Homo sapiens: one gene and its partner. The protein of the gene in region 1 interacts with the protein of each later gene in a pairwise test. Each region holds a gene or a part of one and is shown on either strand. Other genes may lie near its edges.

The links.
Region 2: the proteins of HELQ (region 1) and RAD51C interact in binary tests that used the Homo sapiens proteins (3 or more experiments, as listed by UniProt).

What each region holds. Positions count from the first base shown.
Region 1 is NC_000004.12:83,407,062-83,410,985, forward strand, and holds the end of HELQ (helicase POLQ-like), read right to left. Parts: intron 500-3,924; coding exon 392-499; 3' UTR 285-391; downstream 1-284. UniProt on the Homo sapiens protein: Single-stranded 3'-5' DNA helicase that plays a key role in homology-driven double-strand break (DSB) repair.
Region 2 is NC_000017.11:58,730,278-58,734,201, reverse strand, and holds part of RAD51C (DNA repair protein RAD51 homolog 3), read right to left. Parts: intron 1,722-3,924; coding exon of another isoform or gene 1,719-1,721; coding exon 1,658-1,718; intron 85-1,657; coding exon 1-84. UniProt on the Homo sapiens protein: Essential for the homologous recombination (HR) pathway of DNA repair. Involved in the homologous recombination repair (HRR) pathway of double-stranded DNA breaks arising during DNA replication or induced by DNA-damaging agents.

The DNA of each region.
Region 1 (3,924 bases):
AAAGATAATTTTCATGCATTGGAAATAATATAAAGCAGTTAGGAAATGGAGGGTTTGGAAATCCTAAGAAAAATTCTGGGGATTTCAAATAGTCCAATTTGATGAAAGAAATGGGTAAGAGAATAATGAAAGATCTGGATAAAAAGGTTGAGCACAATGTTGATGAAGTTGAATTTCATTTTGTGGTGGACACTATAGTCTGTTTAGCAGAGAAATAATGTGTAAGTATTCCAAAGAATGAATTGTTAGTGGGAAGAGGTATATTCAAACATTATTCGTAGTTCTTAATGTATAACTGAAATGTATTTTTTCATTTATAAAGTATAAGTTATCTTTAATAACACACATGTACAATAAATAATTCATATATGAAAATTCTCATCAGATAGCTTCATGCTTTGTCAGTGGAAGAAGCCACAGCACCAGGGAAATCAGAAGGCAATCTTAGTAACTCTTCTACCTCTTCTTGCAGGGCTTCTGCTTTTTCATGCAACAGCATCTACATTAAAAAATTAAGACGTGAGGCCAAAATATGCATTGCTAGAGAATTGCCAACAATTTTACCACTGTCCATTGAACACCTGAATCCTTACACATCAGAAATCTAGACATTAAAACTATAATGAGATTGAAAAATGGCCACTTAAGAATAAACGATTATAGTCAATGAAGATGAGGCATTTAGTTAAAACCATTTTAGCTGATCACTGCCTTTTAGTATACCAAAAATAAAGGAGCTTTAATTCTCCCAAAGATTTGTTTTATTGAAGACTCAGCCACTTAAAAATTAACTTTTAATCTATAAAATCTAAGACAATTTTGCAAAAATTTAATTAGCTCCTGAAAAATGTTATCCTTTATATATATGCATTTTATTATTCCTCAAAATTTAGTATGCTTTAAAAAGCTACCAGTATTTCAAATAAAAGTTTTATTCAAGTTCCTAAACTTAAAACTGTTAATTTCAAAAGCAACATAATGAGCAAAAAAAGTATTTCCAAACATGGCATATGAAAGATGTCAATGAATTTTTACCAAATAATAAGCTATATAGATCAATAAGAATAATAAGTAAACTACACAAAACCCTTGTGTTAGTATTACTATAATACAGAGAATATCAAGAACCTCAAATTACTTGTTTAAAAAAGCCCACCAATTTGTGGAAGAATAAATTCCGCTCCCCCCCACCCGCCTTTTTTTCTTTTTTAGACGGAGTCTTGTTCTGTCGCCTGGCTGGAGCACGGTGGCGTGATCTCAGCTCACTGCAACCTCCGCCTCCCAGGTTCAAGTGATTCAGAAGGCCTCAGCCTTCTGAGTAGCTGGGACTACAGGCATGCACCACCACACCCAGCTAATTTTTGTATTTTTAGTAGAGATGGGGTTTCACCATGTTGGCCAGGATGGTCTCCACTGCTTGACCTCATCATCTGCCTGCCTCAGCCTCCCAAAGTGCTGGGATTACAGGTGTGAGCCACCATGCCCAGCCTCTTTTTTTTTTTTTAATTAGAAAAAATTTAAAAAGCTTTTTTTGTAGAGACTGGATCTCCCTATGTTGTCCAGGCTGTTCTCAAACTCTTGGGCTCAAACGATCCTCCTGCCTTGGCCTCCCAAAGTGCTGGGATTATAGTGTGAGCCACTACACTCAGCCAAAACCAGTTTCTTGAGCTCCCACCCAAGTGTTTGCAGAGATCCAGATGGGGTTGAGAAAAAAAAAACACATGAACAAGATAAGAGGGAAATAGAGGGTCTAAAATGAAATAAGATCACCTCCAGAGAGAAAAAGCCTACCCAAATATAAAAATACTGAAAAAAGAATGTTGGTTGATTAAAGCATTGTTTATAGGAAGATATTTAAAATGCATGTGGGACTCTAGGAGGCAGTCTTCGAAAGGCAATGCTTTTAGGGGAGAGAATGGGTGAAAAGGGAGGTGCCTTTTGGAAGCTCAGCCATGAGAGGAAGAGGAAAAAAGGACAAAATTTACAATCTTGTAGGGCAAAAGGAAATTAAACAAACAAACAAACAAACTTGCATTCCTCTCCCACCCCAAGTCATCCATTAAAGAAAAATACTTTGCTACTCTGACAGAAGAGAACACTCTTGAACTGGGATCTCATAAATCATTCCAAATGACTGTGTTGTCCAAGATATGCAGAGGCACAAGCAGTTCTCATCTATACAAAACTACTATATAAAAAGAAAACAAGGCTGGGCATGGTAGCTCATGCCTGTAATCCCAGCACTTTGAGAGGCCAAGGTGGGCAGACCATGAGGTCAGGAGATCGAGACCATCCTGGCTAACACAGTGAAACCCCATCTCTACTAAAAATACAAAAAAAAATTTAGCCAGGCAAGGTGGCCGGCGCCTGTAGTCCGAGCTACTTAGGAGGCTGAGGCAGGAGAATGGCGTGAACCTGGGAGGCGGAGCTTGCAGTGAGCCAAGATTGCACCACTGCACTCCAGCCTGGGCAAGAGAGCGATACTCTGTCTCAAAAAAAAAAAGAGAAAAGAAAACCAATAAGAACCCAAACTCTTCATCTCATAAAAATTTCCCTTCCTGAAAGCAAACCATGAAGCAGAAAAACTGTAACACAACACTCCAAACAAAATTAAATATTCTCAAATAAAAATCTGGAGATATGAGGAGGAGTAGAAATGCTCTCTAAATAAGAAGTTAAAAAACTAAGAACCGACATGGACAAAAACTGGAAGAAATGATACAAAAGTTGACTGAGCTCAGGAATGAAATAAAAGAAAAAGGCAAAATCATATTAGAAATAAAAACTAATAACTATAACTAAATAACTGGGTGTCCATAGAAAAACAGATTTAAATAAAAAACCTAATTAGGGCCACTGAAAAAATTTAAAAAGCAGGAAAACAATAAAGAGAATAAAAACGAGATAGGCCGGGCATGGTGGCTCAGACCTATAATCCCAGCACTTTGGGAGGTTGAGGCAGGAGGATTGCTTGAGGCCAGAAGTTAGAGACCAGCCTGGGCAATGCAGTGAGACCAAGCCTCTACAACAACAACAAAAAATTAGCCAGGAATGGTGGCCCATACCTATAGTCCCAGCCACTCAGGAGGCTAAGGTGGGATCACCTGAGCCTGGGAGTTCAAGGCTGCAGTGAGCTATGATGGTGCTACTGCACTCTAGCCTGGGTGACAGAGACCTAGTTCCTCCCCACTCCCCCTAAAAAAATATCTGTGAGGGAAGGAGAGGAAATAAAATGGAATACCAGTAGAATTTGTGTTTCAAATGTATAACAGCCACACTGAAGCAGATTTTTTTAAACCCCAAACCAAGTAACATTTTAACACATTATTTTAATTATATACTCTCAGACTGAAGACAAAAAGTGCTGTAAATAAATACTGAATGTTTGTTTTTTTTGGAGTGGTATAATTTAACAATTCTGCAGTTACTTTCAGTGCATTCTAAGATTGAGGAAAACAGAAATATATTAATAAACACAGGGATGAGGTTTCTCATTATTGGAGAAAGGAAGTACAAATATGAAAAAGAGGAAGACTATATAGCAAGTCCTGTATGGGATTAGTGTGGCAAATTAAAGATGATTGGAAATTCTTTGACACCTTCATTGAGAGACGGGATCTAATTCTCCTCTTGAATCTGTGCTAGCCTTTGTGATTCACTTATAACTAATAGAATGCAGAAGAAATGATGCCACATGACAGGTCTCAGTTTAAGAAAGGCCTTGGGGTCTTGAAATGAGATCATTCCAAGGTCATGTGAATCCTCCCCCTCAGATCCTAGCATCCACACTGTAAGAAAGCCAAGCTAGGATAGGCAAGGTGGCTCACACTTGTAACCCCAGCACTTTGGGAGGCCAAGGTGGGCAGATTGCTTGAGCCCAGGAGTTCGAGACCAAACCGGGCAACATGGAGAAACCCCATCTCT
Region 2 (3,924 bases), on another chromosome or scaffold:
TCGTGACCGTTTCCGGGTGCTCAAGGAACCTTCTGTTTGCAATGAACATGCAGAAGTAACAACAGTATCTCTAAATCCCTGAGGCTGAAAGATAAAAAATATATATACAAATATGCTTTAAGAACATTTGAAGACTGATCTTAGAAATATTTTTAAGTAACTAATAAGAAAGCTACTTTATTCTAGGGCCAGGCGCAGTGGCTCACACCTGTAATCCCAGCACTTTGGGAGGCTGAGGTGGGCAGATCATGAGGTCAGGAGTTCAAGACCAGCCTGGCCAACATGGTGACCCCTATCTCTACCAAAAATATAAAAATTAGCTGGGCATGGTGGCACACACCTCTAGTCCCAGCTACTCTGGAGGCTGAGGCAGGAGAATCGCTTGAACCTGGGAGGCGGAGGTTGCAGTGAGACAAGATTGTGCCACTGCACTCTAGCCTGGGCGAAATAGTGAGACTTCGTCTCAAAAAAAAAGAAAGTTCTTGAGATAGAAATTTATCAACCACTGTGAATGAAGAGAATAAACCTCATGGATACGTGCCAAAGCCCGGGCTATATTAAGAGTATTTTATATATACTTATTTATACCCTTGCATACACACGCACAGAAATAACATTGCATTATAAAAATGTTCTCTAAAGGTCAATCCTAACAAACTTTACGATAGCTTTGTTAGAAGTAAAAGGAAATAACCTAAGTCTTAGGTACTTTACAGATTTATTTTCATAATTAAATACTCTAAAGTTTTCCAACTATGATATTTCTCTCTCTCTTTTTTTTCCCCAACTAGGATATTTCAAGTACACCTGGGTACTGCAAAGACTAAGTGGATAATTCAGTTTCAGAATCTCTATTTCTGTTTTTGTTGTTATAAAAATGAGATAAAGCCGGGCTCGGTGGCTCACGCCTGTAATCCCAGAATTTTGGAAGGCTGAGAAGGGCGGATCACTTGAGGTCAGGAGTTTGAGACTAGTCTGGCCAACATGGCGAAACCCCATCTCTACTAAAAACACAAAAATTAGCCAGGCGTGGTAGCACACGCCTATAATCCCAGCTACTAGGGAGGCTGAGGCAGGAGAATTGCTTAAACCAGTAGGGCGGAGGCTGCAGTGAGCCAAGATTGCACCGCTGCACTCCAGCCTGGGCGACGCAGAGACTCCATCTCAAAAAAAAAGAGATGCCAAAAATATATTTGGCTCAACACTATTGATAAATATGCATATTTCAGCCAAAAAATGTGTGTTCTATGATGTAAATTCACAGAAGAATTAACATCTTAAAGTGGGCTATATTTGGTGCTACAATAGATCTATAATACCTACAGACCAAAATAAGTAATGTTAGTATTTTTTCTTTTCTGGAAATCTTCAACAACTTTCACTTTAAAGATTTTTAATATCCTGACATTACATATGGCATGGAACACACTACCCCAAAATAAGTATTTCCTCTGCTCTTAAGAATAAATTTCAGTCCATTTGTGACTACAATATTCTGTATATACTACTATTTTGGGGACAATGTTCTAAGCATCAAAAGCTGTCCTCAAATATGCTTGCTGCCTACAGAAGTTGACAGAAGCAAGTTGTAAATTCTCTCTTTAGATAATTACCGCCCATCAATATCAAAATCCCACTCTAATCAAATAATACTGACTTTGATTTGAAACAGTACTGTGCATTCCTTCTGGCTGGGTGACTTGTACAATGTTGCCAACCTGCTTAAAGAAAAAGAATAAATACATACAAACACATGAACTTAATTAATTAAAAGTTCAGATGACCAAACTCATTATTTAAATGTATAGGTTTATTATATTAATAATTCTATTTTTTCTCTAAGAACACAAAAAGGAGAGAAATATTAAAAATACACCCTTCAAATTACCCGTATGTATATAACAGAGTTTATATGAAATTTTAAAGCAACCTAAAAGTCCAATGACTGATTCAAATAAATTATTTTACATATGATGAGATATTACTTATGCTAAAAACTAAACGTGGAAGAAAATATTCAATGAGATAGGAAAGTATTAATAATATACTAAATAATAGTTATACTGTATTATCCCATATTTATAAGTATGTATACGCACATCTAAAAGAATTGATAGAAGACTACAATCAAGAAGTTAAAAGCTGTTATCACAAGGTAAAGGTTGCTTGCTTATATTTTCCAAACTGTCTGCAGTAATCATGTTTTTTTAATTATTGCTGAAGAATTATGATAATTTCTTATACTACAAATGAGAAACACTTACTCATATTACACCCAATAAAAATAGCTAGGACGACATTGTTTTAAAATGATGCACCTAGGCATGGTGGCTCATGTCTGTAATCCCAGCTCTTTAGGAGGGCAAGGCATGAGGATCACTTGAGACCAGGAGTTTGAAGCCATCCTGGGCAACATAGTGAGACCCCCATCTCTACAAAAATAATAATATAAAATGATTATGTCCCAAAAATAAGTCATGACAGAACAAGATCTGCTTAGGTGGGATTTTATTATGTCTTATACAATTAATATAAAACTGAAAGCTAAAAGTAGCTGAGAAATAAATTTCTAAGCTCTTATTAACTATATTCAAGTACTGTAACAGCAACAAATATAAACAAAAACCTTTAAGACTGCTTTTTGGCTGGGCGCGGTGGCTCACGCCTGCAATCCCAGCACTTTGGGAGGCCAAGGCAGGCAGATCACCTGAGGTCGGGAGTTCGAGACCAGCCTGACCAACATGGAGAAACCCCATCTCTACTAAAAATACAAAATTAGCCGGGTGTGGTGGCGCATGCCTGTAATCCCAGCTACTCGGGAGGCTGAGGCAGGAGAATCGCTTGAACCTGTGAGGCAGAGGTTGCGGTGAGCTGAGATCATGCCATTGCACTCCAGCCTGGGCAAAAAAGAGTGAAACTCCATCTCAAAAAAAAAAAAAAAAACTGCTTTTAAGAATTACTTTAAAACTGATACACTGTAACTTATTCACAATAGCCAGAAGGTGGAAGCAACCCAAGTGTGCATCCACAGATGAATAAACAAAATGTGGTATGTACATACAATGGAATATGCAGACTTAAGGAAGAAAATTCTGACACATGCTACAACATAAATGAGCCTTGAAGACATTATACTAAGTGAAATAAGCCAGTCACATCAGAACAAGTATTATATGATTCCAATTATATGGGGTTGCTAGAGGAGTAAAATTCAGAGACAGAAGGTAGAATGGTGATTGTCAGGGGCTGGGGGTAAAAAAGAATGAGTTAGCATTTAATGGGTACAGAGTTTCAGTATGGGAAGATGAAAAAGGTCTGAAAATGGATGATGATGGCTGCACAATATGAATGTACCTAATGCCAGTGAACTATATGTAAACATAAAATGGTAAATTTTATGTTATATACATGTTTTAGCACAATGTAATGAAACTGATCTAAAAAATACAGATTCTAACCTAGAGGAAAATAAGATTCTCAGAGTTATAAGGGTCATTTACTTACACAAAATAGAATGATTTGTTTTCAAAGACAATTCAAAAAGGACATTTTGGCTATGATCTGTTACTCTCTTAATTTTGAAATTGCCCCTCTTCTCAGACACAATTCAAAAGAAAAACACAGACCAAAATACAGCAGAATCCAAAATGTTCTATACTCTGTAATTGCAACTTTAAACATAAATAATTGCTAAGTAATATGTAATACAAGAATAGCTATGTTGAGGCTGGGTGCGGTGGCTCACGCCTGTAATCCCAGCACTTTGGGAGGCTGAGGCAGGCAGATCACGAGGTCAGGAGTTCAAGACCAGCCTGGCCAACACGGTGAAACCCCCATCTCTACTAAAGATACAAAAAAAAAAAAAAAAAATTAGCTGGGCGTGGTGGCACGCACCTGTAATCCCAGCTACTGAGGAGGCTGAGG